2 separate regions of the Homo sapiens genome follow, and region 2 is linked to region 1. The links come from fine-mapping of genetic effects on gene expression. A gene starts in region 1. The other region holds a variant in brackets. All regions are shown on one strand. Distances are from middle to middle.

Region 1 (4,380 bases):
TGGAATTTGTCCCACAGGATATAACACAAAAGTCTTTCTGTTCTTTCAAGCACTTTCCACCTGATACATACAACCACCTAGGAAAACTGCCAGCCGAAATACCTGCCCAGCCCAGTCACTTCACACATGACAGACCCGAGATGGCACTGAGAGGTCAAATACCTGCTAGAGGGAGGGCTGGCCCCACAGGGTGTGGCCCTAACTGCAGGTATTGTGGGTCATCCTTCCGCATCTCCCCCAGTGCCTGCTGCCCCTCCTCCCCAGGGGAGCCCTCACCTGGAAATGGAAGATGCCGGCATAGCCATTCTGGAAGCTCTGGCCGTGCGGAACCACTCGGTGCAGGAGGGTGTCGTTGAGAGTGAGGGAGGCGATGGCCGCCAAGAGCCAGCAGTCCCCTGGGGCAGGAGGGATGCACATTAGCCTGCTCTACCAACCTGCCCCGGGGGGGGAAGCGGGTGCTAGGGAGAATCTGGGGTTCCTTGGCCAGGGTGCCACTTAACTCCCCTCAGCTTGCAGAAAAGACCCAGGAATCTGGGCAAACCAGCCCCAGCGCTGATAGCCAGATCCTGCCTGGGCTTGCAAGAGGGAGGGGTTGGGGCAGAGCCTGAAGGAGCGGGAATGGGGAACTACTGTGGAAAAAATACCCGGGACCCGACGCCCTGGGGGCCTACCCAGTGCTCCCTGGCAGATGTCTGTGCGGGTAGCTCCATCCACAATGAACTGGGGGTTTGACAGCAGTTCCTACGAGAGACCCAGAGTCCTGTTCCTCGGCCAGCCCCTCCCAGAAATTGGCACCAGGCCACCCCAGACCCCATTCCCCACCAGGGACATGGAGTCCCATCCCTACTCCTCATCCAGGATCTGGCTTAGCCGAGTCCCACCCAGGATGGCCCCTCTCACCGTGGGACGCTTCCACTTGATGCCATAGGTCTTGGAGGAATTGGGACCCAGGTCCTTGTAACCCAGGCTCTGGGGTACCGGGGGGAAGGCCTCATCACGGAAGAGGGTCCCACTCTGCAGGCATCGCACCCGCAGCTGCTCATAATCCTGGCCCAGGTACTTGATGGCATTCTCATGGCGGCCCAGGCCCAGCTCCCTGGCCCGCTGCTTCTGCACTTGGGCTGACACCCCAGTGCAGTACACCGGCGTGATGATCTCCTCCGACATCCTGCCGGACAGATGGGCCTGCTCAGAACCCAGGCCTTCCCAAGACTAGAACCTGGGCTCCTGCCTGCAAGCTCTGCTCTCCTGCCCCTGCTTATCCATCCCCAAACCTAGGGTTTCCCTGCCTCACTGCTCCCCTCACAGAAGTAGGGTTCTCAGCCACCTCCCGGTGCTCCCAGTGAATCCAGGAAAGGGATTTCCCAGTTCCCAGGCGTGCCGGCCACCTCTCCTTTCCCGGATCCCATTGTCAGGGGCTTGCAGCTCTGTAGTGAGCCAGCAGGTCAGGTGGGGCAGGGCGGAGCCTCCAGACAGCACAAGGAACTGGGCAGGTGGGACACAGCAGGGAAGGCCTCTTTGATCCTGTTCACAGGCCTGCAACCCCCTCCCCAAACTAACCAAGCTCCTGGTGCACCGGCCCCTTGCCGTGGGCTGAAAACCCCAGACGGTCGGGGTCCCCCTCCTCAGGCCCCCGCAGCAGGCTCGATATCAGAGCTGGTGGGCCCTAGCCCAGCCCCTGGGGACAGCGGTGAGCCAGGCTGGGACAGGCGCCTGGGCTGTGCCGCTCCGCCAGCCCCCACCCCTGCTCCAGGAACGCAGAGGCCCCCGAGAAGGGACCGTGCTGGGGCAGCCCCTCAGCCCAGGAGCAGTGGCCAGGGTCAAGGAATCCCGGCTCGGCTACCCAGCTTCTTACCTGGGGGAGGGGTGTTTGGGGGTCGCTGCAGTCCCTGAGGCTGGCTTCCCGGTGGCAGCTCAGGGCAGGGCCCAACCAGGAAGAGCGCTCCTCCCCGCCCTCCTCCCGCCGCCCCTCCGCCCTCCGCCCTCCCTCTCTCCTTCTCCTCCTCCTCCTCCTGGGGCTCCTACCCCGCTTCCTCTCGGCTCTCCCTTATCTCTCCGGCACGGTCTCTGACTATCTCTTACTCACGGTGTCTCCCCGCCCCTCCCTCCGCAGGCCGGGGGCCAATTCCGCGAGAGGACAAATTAGTAAAAGGCAGAGCAGTCCCCGGGGAGGGGCCAGCGCGGGGGGGGATGGGGGGGCTGGGGCGCGGCGGAAGGGCACCGCGGGGAACGGAGGGGGAGGGCCGGGCAGGGGGTATTTTTAACCAGGGGCAGCAGCTCGAGTTGCAGGGCCGGACGGCCGCACCCCACGCGCGCCCTGGCGGGCATTCCGGGGCGATTGTGCGGCGGCGCCGCCTCCCGCAGCCCCGGGCCCGCCCGGTCCCCAGCTCCCCTCGCTCCGCGCGACCGCAGCTGCTCCCGCCGTTCCCAGCCAGCCCCGGCGCGGGGCCGAGATTACCTCGGGCTGCGGCAGCTGCTCTGAGGAGGGGCCGGGCTGGCAGCGAGCAGACCCCTGCCGGACACTCAGCAAACGGCAGCCTCACCCCGCAGGGCCGCGCCACTCCCCTTCCCCACCCCACCGCCGCGTCCCGGCTCAGCGCTCCCCGGGGAACGCAGGGGGACCGGGCTCGCTGCGTGACCTTGGGTAAGTCCCTGCCCCGTTCGGCCCGACTTTCCGCATGCGTGCATCCTATGGGATGGGGTTGGGCAATTGTGGGAGCCCATCTTTCTCTAACGTTCTGGGGTTTCTTGAACCTGGAAACTTAGAGAGGTGGACATCCCTGTTCTCTCCCCCAGGCTCTCAGCCCACCCACCTGGAAGCGCCCATGTGTCACCTTACCCAGGAGAGGGCGGCAGAGGCTGCGAGCAGGACGGCAGCCCCCTCTCCCCACCCCCAGGACCCTGAGATCCTGCTTCACGGGCTGCAAGAAGTTGGGGGGCCAGGATTCGGCGCGGAGGCCGGGGGTGTGGGTGGGGAGACTGCAGAGACTCCCGAGACCCCCCCAAGTCAGGGCTTTTCGCTGGTCTCGCAGCCCCAGCCCAGCAGCTGCTGCAGTCTTGCATGTTGTGGATGCAAGCATTTTGCTGAGGAAACTGCATAGCGTTCCCAGGACTCTAGGGCCCACGACCCCTCAAAAGTTAAGAGCCGCTGATCTAATCTAACCCCACTTTCACCCTCAGTTAACAAAAGAGGAAAACTGAGGCCTGAGAGGGTGTGACTTGCCTGAAATACCTAACCTGGTGAGTGATGGGTGGAACCAGCTCCTAGGCTTTCTGCGCAGGTGTCCAGGGACAGAGAAGGGTGGTTTAAACTAGAGAGGTGGCAGGCAGAAGTAGATGGATTTGATAACTATTTAGGATACACCATCAAAATTTAACTCAAACTGGATTACACACCTAAATATAAATGGCCAAACCATAAAACTTTTTTTTTTAAAAATGGAGACAATCTTAACAATATTGGGTTTGAAAAGATTTCTTTTTTCTTTTCTAAAGGCAGGGTCTTGCTTTCATTGACCAGGCAGGAGTGCAGTGCCCTGATCACAGCTCACTGTAACTTTAAACTCCTGGGCTCAAGAGATCCTCTCACCTCAGCCTCCTGAGTAGCTGAGACTACAGGCACGTGCCACGACACACAGCTAATTTTTAAATTTTTTGTAGAAATGGGGTCCTGCTGTGTTACTCAGGCTGGTCATGAACTCCTGGGCTCAAGCAGTCCTCCTGCCTGAGCCTCCCAAAGTGCTGGGATTACAGGTGTGAGCTTTGGCACCTGGCCAGATTTCTTAAATATGACACAAAAAGTGTAAATGATAGAAGAAATCAATAAATTGAACTTCATCAAAATAAAACGCTTTTGTTTCTCAAAATGCACGAAACTATTAAAAATGAAAAGATAAGCCATAGACTAGGACGAATATTTGTAAAAATTCTATCTGATGTAGGACTTGTATAAAGAACTTTTACAATTGAATAAAAATCCAATAAAAATGGACAAAACATTTGTTTGTTTTCTGGTGTTTGTTTTTGTTTTTGAGATGGAGTCCCGCTCCATCACCCAGGTTGGAATGCAGTGGCGCGATCCTGGCTCACTGCAACCTCCACCTCCTGGGTTCAAGCAATTCTCCTGCCTCAGCCTCCCCAGTAGCTGGGATTACAGGCGCCCGCCACCACACCAGGCTAATTTTTGTATTTTTAGTAGAGACAGGGTTTCACCATGTTAGCCAAGCTGGTCTCAAACTCCTGACCTCAAGTGATCTGCACGCCTCTGCCTCCCAAGGTGCTGGGATTACAGGGTGAGCCACCGCGCCTGTCAAAAAATGGACAAAACATTTGAACAGACACTTCATCCAAAAAGATCTCTGGATGGCAAATAGGCACATT
Region 2 (4,380 bases), 76 kb after region 1:
AAATCGTTCTTCATCTTCCGGATGGTGTCTAGGAGGGCAGGGGCGGGGAAAAGGGGAGAGCAGGTGACTGCAGGGCGGGCGCAACCTCAGCTCCTTCTCACCCACCCCTTCACAGACGCCCCAGCTTGCTCCAGGGGCGCATGGATGATTCCAGAGAAAGGACTGCGAGGGCGTGGGTCACAGCGCACATGGGGGCGGGGGAGGGGGTTTATGTTCCCAAAGCAGGCGTTACTCACATACTCCCCGTAACCCCCTAACCCTGGTGCCCAGGAGAGCCGGCCCTCAGAATTAGTCCAGATCCGAAGCAGGCCGCAGGTGCTTAGCCAGCTGCCACCACTGTGCCTCAACTGCTCCATCAGACCACAAGCAGCCAAGGCAGGGACCGCTGGCTCCCAAGCGCATCTGCGTGTCCAGCGCACTGCCTGGATGAGGCAATACATTCTTGTTGACCCTCATCTCCTTTCCAGACCTCCCAAAGCCTTTCACATGCTTTCCGGAACATGGGCTGTCTTCTCTGAAGGGCCCTTTCCCTTTGGTCCTGATAGAATCCTGCCTAGGGAGGCTGTTTTTCCTTTCACACACCAGGTGCCTGGGAGCCTGGTCCCTTCATGCTTCTAAATCATGCCTAGATCTCCTCTCTTCAAAACCCCGGCTTCTAGGAAGACCATGCCATCAAGCCACAACCCTCCTCTTTGCTGTCTCTACTGTCCTCTGACACTCCTCTCAGTTCCCCATCACTGCCTCTTCTCCTCCTCCTGTCACCTCCTTGTGCACATCCACATGGATGAGCCTTCCAATGTTCCTGACTGTTCACTGACGGCCTCAATTCAATTCCACCTATTCTTTTTTTTTTTTTTTGAGACTGAGTCTCGCTCTGTCGCCCAGACTGGAGTGCAGTGGCACGACCTCTGCTCACTGCAAACTCCAATTCCCAGGTTCACACCATTCTCCTGCCTCAGCCTCCCAAGTAGCTGGGACTACAGGTGCCTGCCACCACACCCAGCTAATTTTTTGTATTTTTAGTAGAGATGGAGTTTCACCATGTTAGCCAGGATGGTCTTGATCTCCTGACCTCATGATCCGCCCACCTTGGCCTCCCAAAGTGCTGGGATTACAGGCATGAGCCACCGCACCCGACGAGGTCTGATGGTTTTATAAGGGGCTCTCCCTGCTTCGCTTAACACTTCTCCTTCCTGCTGCCTTGTGAAGAAGATGCCTTGCTTCTCTTTCACCTTCTGCCATGATTGTAAGTTTCCTGAGGCCTCCCCAGCCATGCTGTGAACTGTGAGTCAATTAAACCTCTTTCCTTTATAAGTTACCTAGTCTCGGGCAGTTCTTTACAGCAGTATGAACCTGGATTAATATACCTAGTAATCAATCCATTACCAAGTCATGGAAGGTCTACCTGCAACATTTTCTTTGTAAGCCACTATCATCTCTTGTCCAACAACTGCCAACATTTCCCAACTAATTTCCCTAATTCCATTGAACATACCAACAATGTTCATAAAGAAAGGCGAAGAGGATAAGACAGAAATGTGTATCTGTAACAGGAGATATTTTGGTTTTGTTTTGTTTGAGAAAGAGTCTCACTCTGTCACCCAGGCTGGAGTGCAGTGGCGCGATCTCAGCTCTGGAGGCTCCTGGAGGGTGGCACGCCCGGGGAGGGCATGGAAACTCCATGCTCCTTCTCCTACACCTC[G/A]CCCTATGCACCTGCTCATCTGTACCCTTTGTAACATCCTTTGTAATAAACTGGTAAATGTGTTATCCTGAGCTCTGTGAGCCACTCCAGCAAACTGAGCCCAAAGAGGGAGTTATGGAAACCCCTACCTGGAGCCAGTTGGTCAGAAATTCTGGAGGCCTGAGGCCCTGACCTGCAGCTAGTGCCTGAAAGTGGGGAGGCAGATTTGGGACTGAACTAGTGCCTGAAGGGAGGCAGGCTTGGGGACTCAGCCCTCAACTCATGGAATCTGATGCTATCTCTGGGTAAATAGTGTTGGAATTAAATCAGAGGACACCCAGCGGGTGTCTGCTGCTTGGTGTGTGGGGAAGAAACCCAACACATTTGGTCACAGAACTCTTCTGTGGTCATGATTGTGGTGATGTGAGAGCATAGGAAGCACACAGTTTGCATTTTTCCCAAACAATGCCATAAAATATATACAAACCTTTCCATATGGTAGATCACAAAGAAAAAAACCTCATTCTTTTTTTTTTTTTGAGACAGGGTCTCCCTCCGTCGCCCAGGCTGCAGTGCAGTGGCGCGATCTCAGCTCACTGCAACCTCCACCTCCTGGGTTCAAGCGATTCTCCTGCCTCAGCCCCGAGTAGCTGGGATTACAGGCACGTGCCACCATGCCTGGCTAATTTTTGTACTTTTAGTAGAGAGGGTTTCACCATGTTGGCCAGACTGGTCTCTGACCTCAAGTGATCCACCCGCCTCGGCCTCCCAAAGTGCTGGGATTACAGGCGGGAGCCACCGTGCCCAGTCGAAAAAACCTCATTGTTAACCAATTATGAGGTCAGAAAAGGAAATCAAAACTGAAATTGCAGCATGGGTAAAATACCAAGAAAACACTAAATTGGTAAGGGCTTGGTGAATTCTATGGATGAAATGGATAATTTGCTACAAAAATAGGATTTACCAAAATGGATTGCAAAAAACAAGAAAACAGAAACAGAAAAACTAGAGAATGTTGTGAAAGAAAGGTCCTACTCCCCTTTCCCCTCCACACAAAGGCATCTGGCCCAGATGTCCAGGGGTGTTGCGGCGGCTTGAAGGACAGCGCCTTCCAATTCTCTGTGTAAACACTGCCCCAGCAGAGAAACGAGAACAGCTCTCACACAAACTTGATGGAACAAACATAACACTGTTATGAAAACATAACAGAAATACCTCACATATACACATTCATATCTCTTATGAATGGAGATGCAAGGATGAATTAAATAAACAAATGGAGATGCACAAATAAGCAAACAAAATCCAGCAGCATATTAAAATAATAATTGATAAACACAAAAGGGTTTTTGTTTCATGAATGCCAGGATGACTCAAAATTAGAGGATCTCATAATAATTTGCCATGTTAATAGATATTTCAACATCTATTCTTGATTTTTAAAAAACTCTCAATAACATATGAGCAGCTAAATATTTCCCTGACCTCCAAAACTCAGTATCATGTTTACCGAGGCAGTGCTAGAAGCACTCCAATTAAAGTCAAAACATGGCAAGGACAACCTTGATTGCCAATGTTATCTACATTGTTCTGGGGCATTAGCCAACTCAGCTAGAGTCACGAGATGTATTATGGAGATACACAAATTGGAAAGGAGGGAGAAGTATCACTATTTGCAGATGATATAATCAAATAAATAGGCCAGCCACGGTAGCTCATGCCTGTAATCCCAGCACTTTGGGAGGCCGAGGCAGGCAGATCACTTGACGTCAGGAGTTTGAGACCAGCCTGGCCAACATGGTAAAACCCTGTCTCTAGTAAAAATACAAAAAGTAGTTGGGCGTGGTGGCAGGTGCCTGTAATCCTAGCTACTGGGAAGGCTGAGGCAGGAGAATCGCTTGAACCCTGGAGGCACAAGTTGTAGTGAGCTGAGATTGTGCCACTGCACTCTAACCTGAGTAATAGAGCAACACTCTGTCTCAAATAATAATAATTGAATAAATAGAAAGCCCTAAAAAAAAAAAACAAAAAAAAACACCCTGTAAACGTTACTATAAACAATAAGAGATACCACTTTTCACTTCTCAGATTGTCAAAGATTGAAAGAGGTATTCTCTTCTTTGCTGGTGGTTATGCAAACTGATCAGCATTTACAAAGAAGAATCTGGAAATATCTAACTGCAATCACTTGTGAGCCTTCACACACCCACACCTGGTCTGTGTGTGGCTCTGGGACTGTAGGAATGTTCTCCAAGCAACACTGGGAATCTACCCCACTTGGGGAGACAGCTGGAAGGGTGAGTAAGGAGAAAAGCATTGATGTCAATTTGACAAGAAACAAACAGAAACAAAAAATGCAGGAAAAAAATATTAGAGAAAATATAAGAGAAAGAACTGTCTGAGACAAAGAATCTACAGGGCTCACATCTGTAGAGCTATTAAGGGATTTTTTAAAAAATTACATGGAAAGGTAGATTACGTATCAGCAAAATGGACTTTTCATTTTAACAACACAGTCCACAAGAAAGGATCATTTAGCCCTCTTAGAGATGATTTCATAGAAAGGAAGGTTACTAAGGAATAAAATCACATGATGTGAAACATCTATATTACTTTTGGGACCATAGGGACCATTGCCTGCATTTTGTTGGGGAAATCATAATTATTTTGAGTTTCTTTGCTTGAGATAGGGTCTTGCT

What was found. PIP is the estimated chance that this variant, and not a neighbour inherited with it, causes the effect. A credible set is the group of variants that fine-mapping cannot tell apart.
Region 2: its variant is the best candidate, but not a certain one, in a credible set for the expression of CAPN1 in whole blood (INTERVAL, PIP 0.83).

The regions. Positions count from the first base shown.
Region 1 is chr11:65,179,489-65,183,868 of GRCh38, reverse strand. CAPN1 (calpain 1) reads right to left here and starts at 1,941. Exons shown (of 22, transcript NM_005186.4): 1 at 1,856-1,941; 2 at 901-1,168; 3 at 672-741; 4 at 277-395. The coding sequence starts at 1,167. It overlaps CAPN1-AS1 (CAPN1 antisense RNA 1), which reads left to right and starts at 2,035. Exons shown (of 2, transcript NR_145677.1): 1 at 2,035-2,644; 2 at 2,797-3,998. RefSeq lists enhancers at 1-675, 676-1,464, 1,465-2,254 and silencers at 1,277-1,571, 2,173-2,622.
Region 2 is chr11:65,103,229-65,107,608 of GRCh38, reverse strand. VPS51 (VPS51 subunit of GARP complex) reads right to left here. Exons shown (of 10, transcript NM_013265.4): 3 at 1-28. Among named protein-coding and RNA genes, the nearest start is that of TM7SF2, 6.5 kb to the left of the region's middle. The variant G/A (reference allele first, on the strand shown) is at 1,703.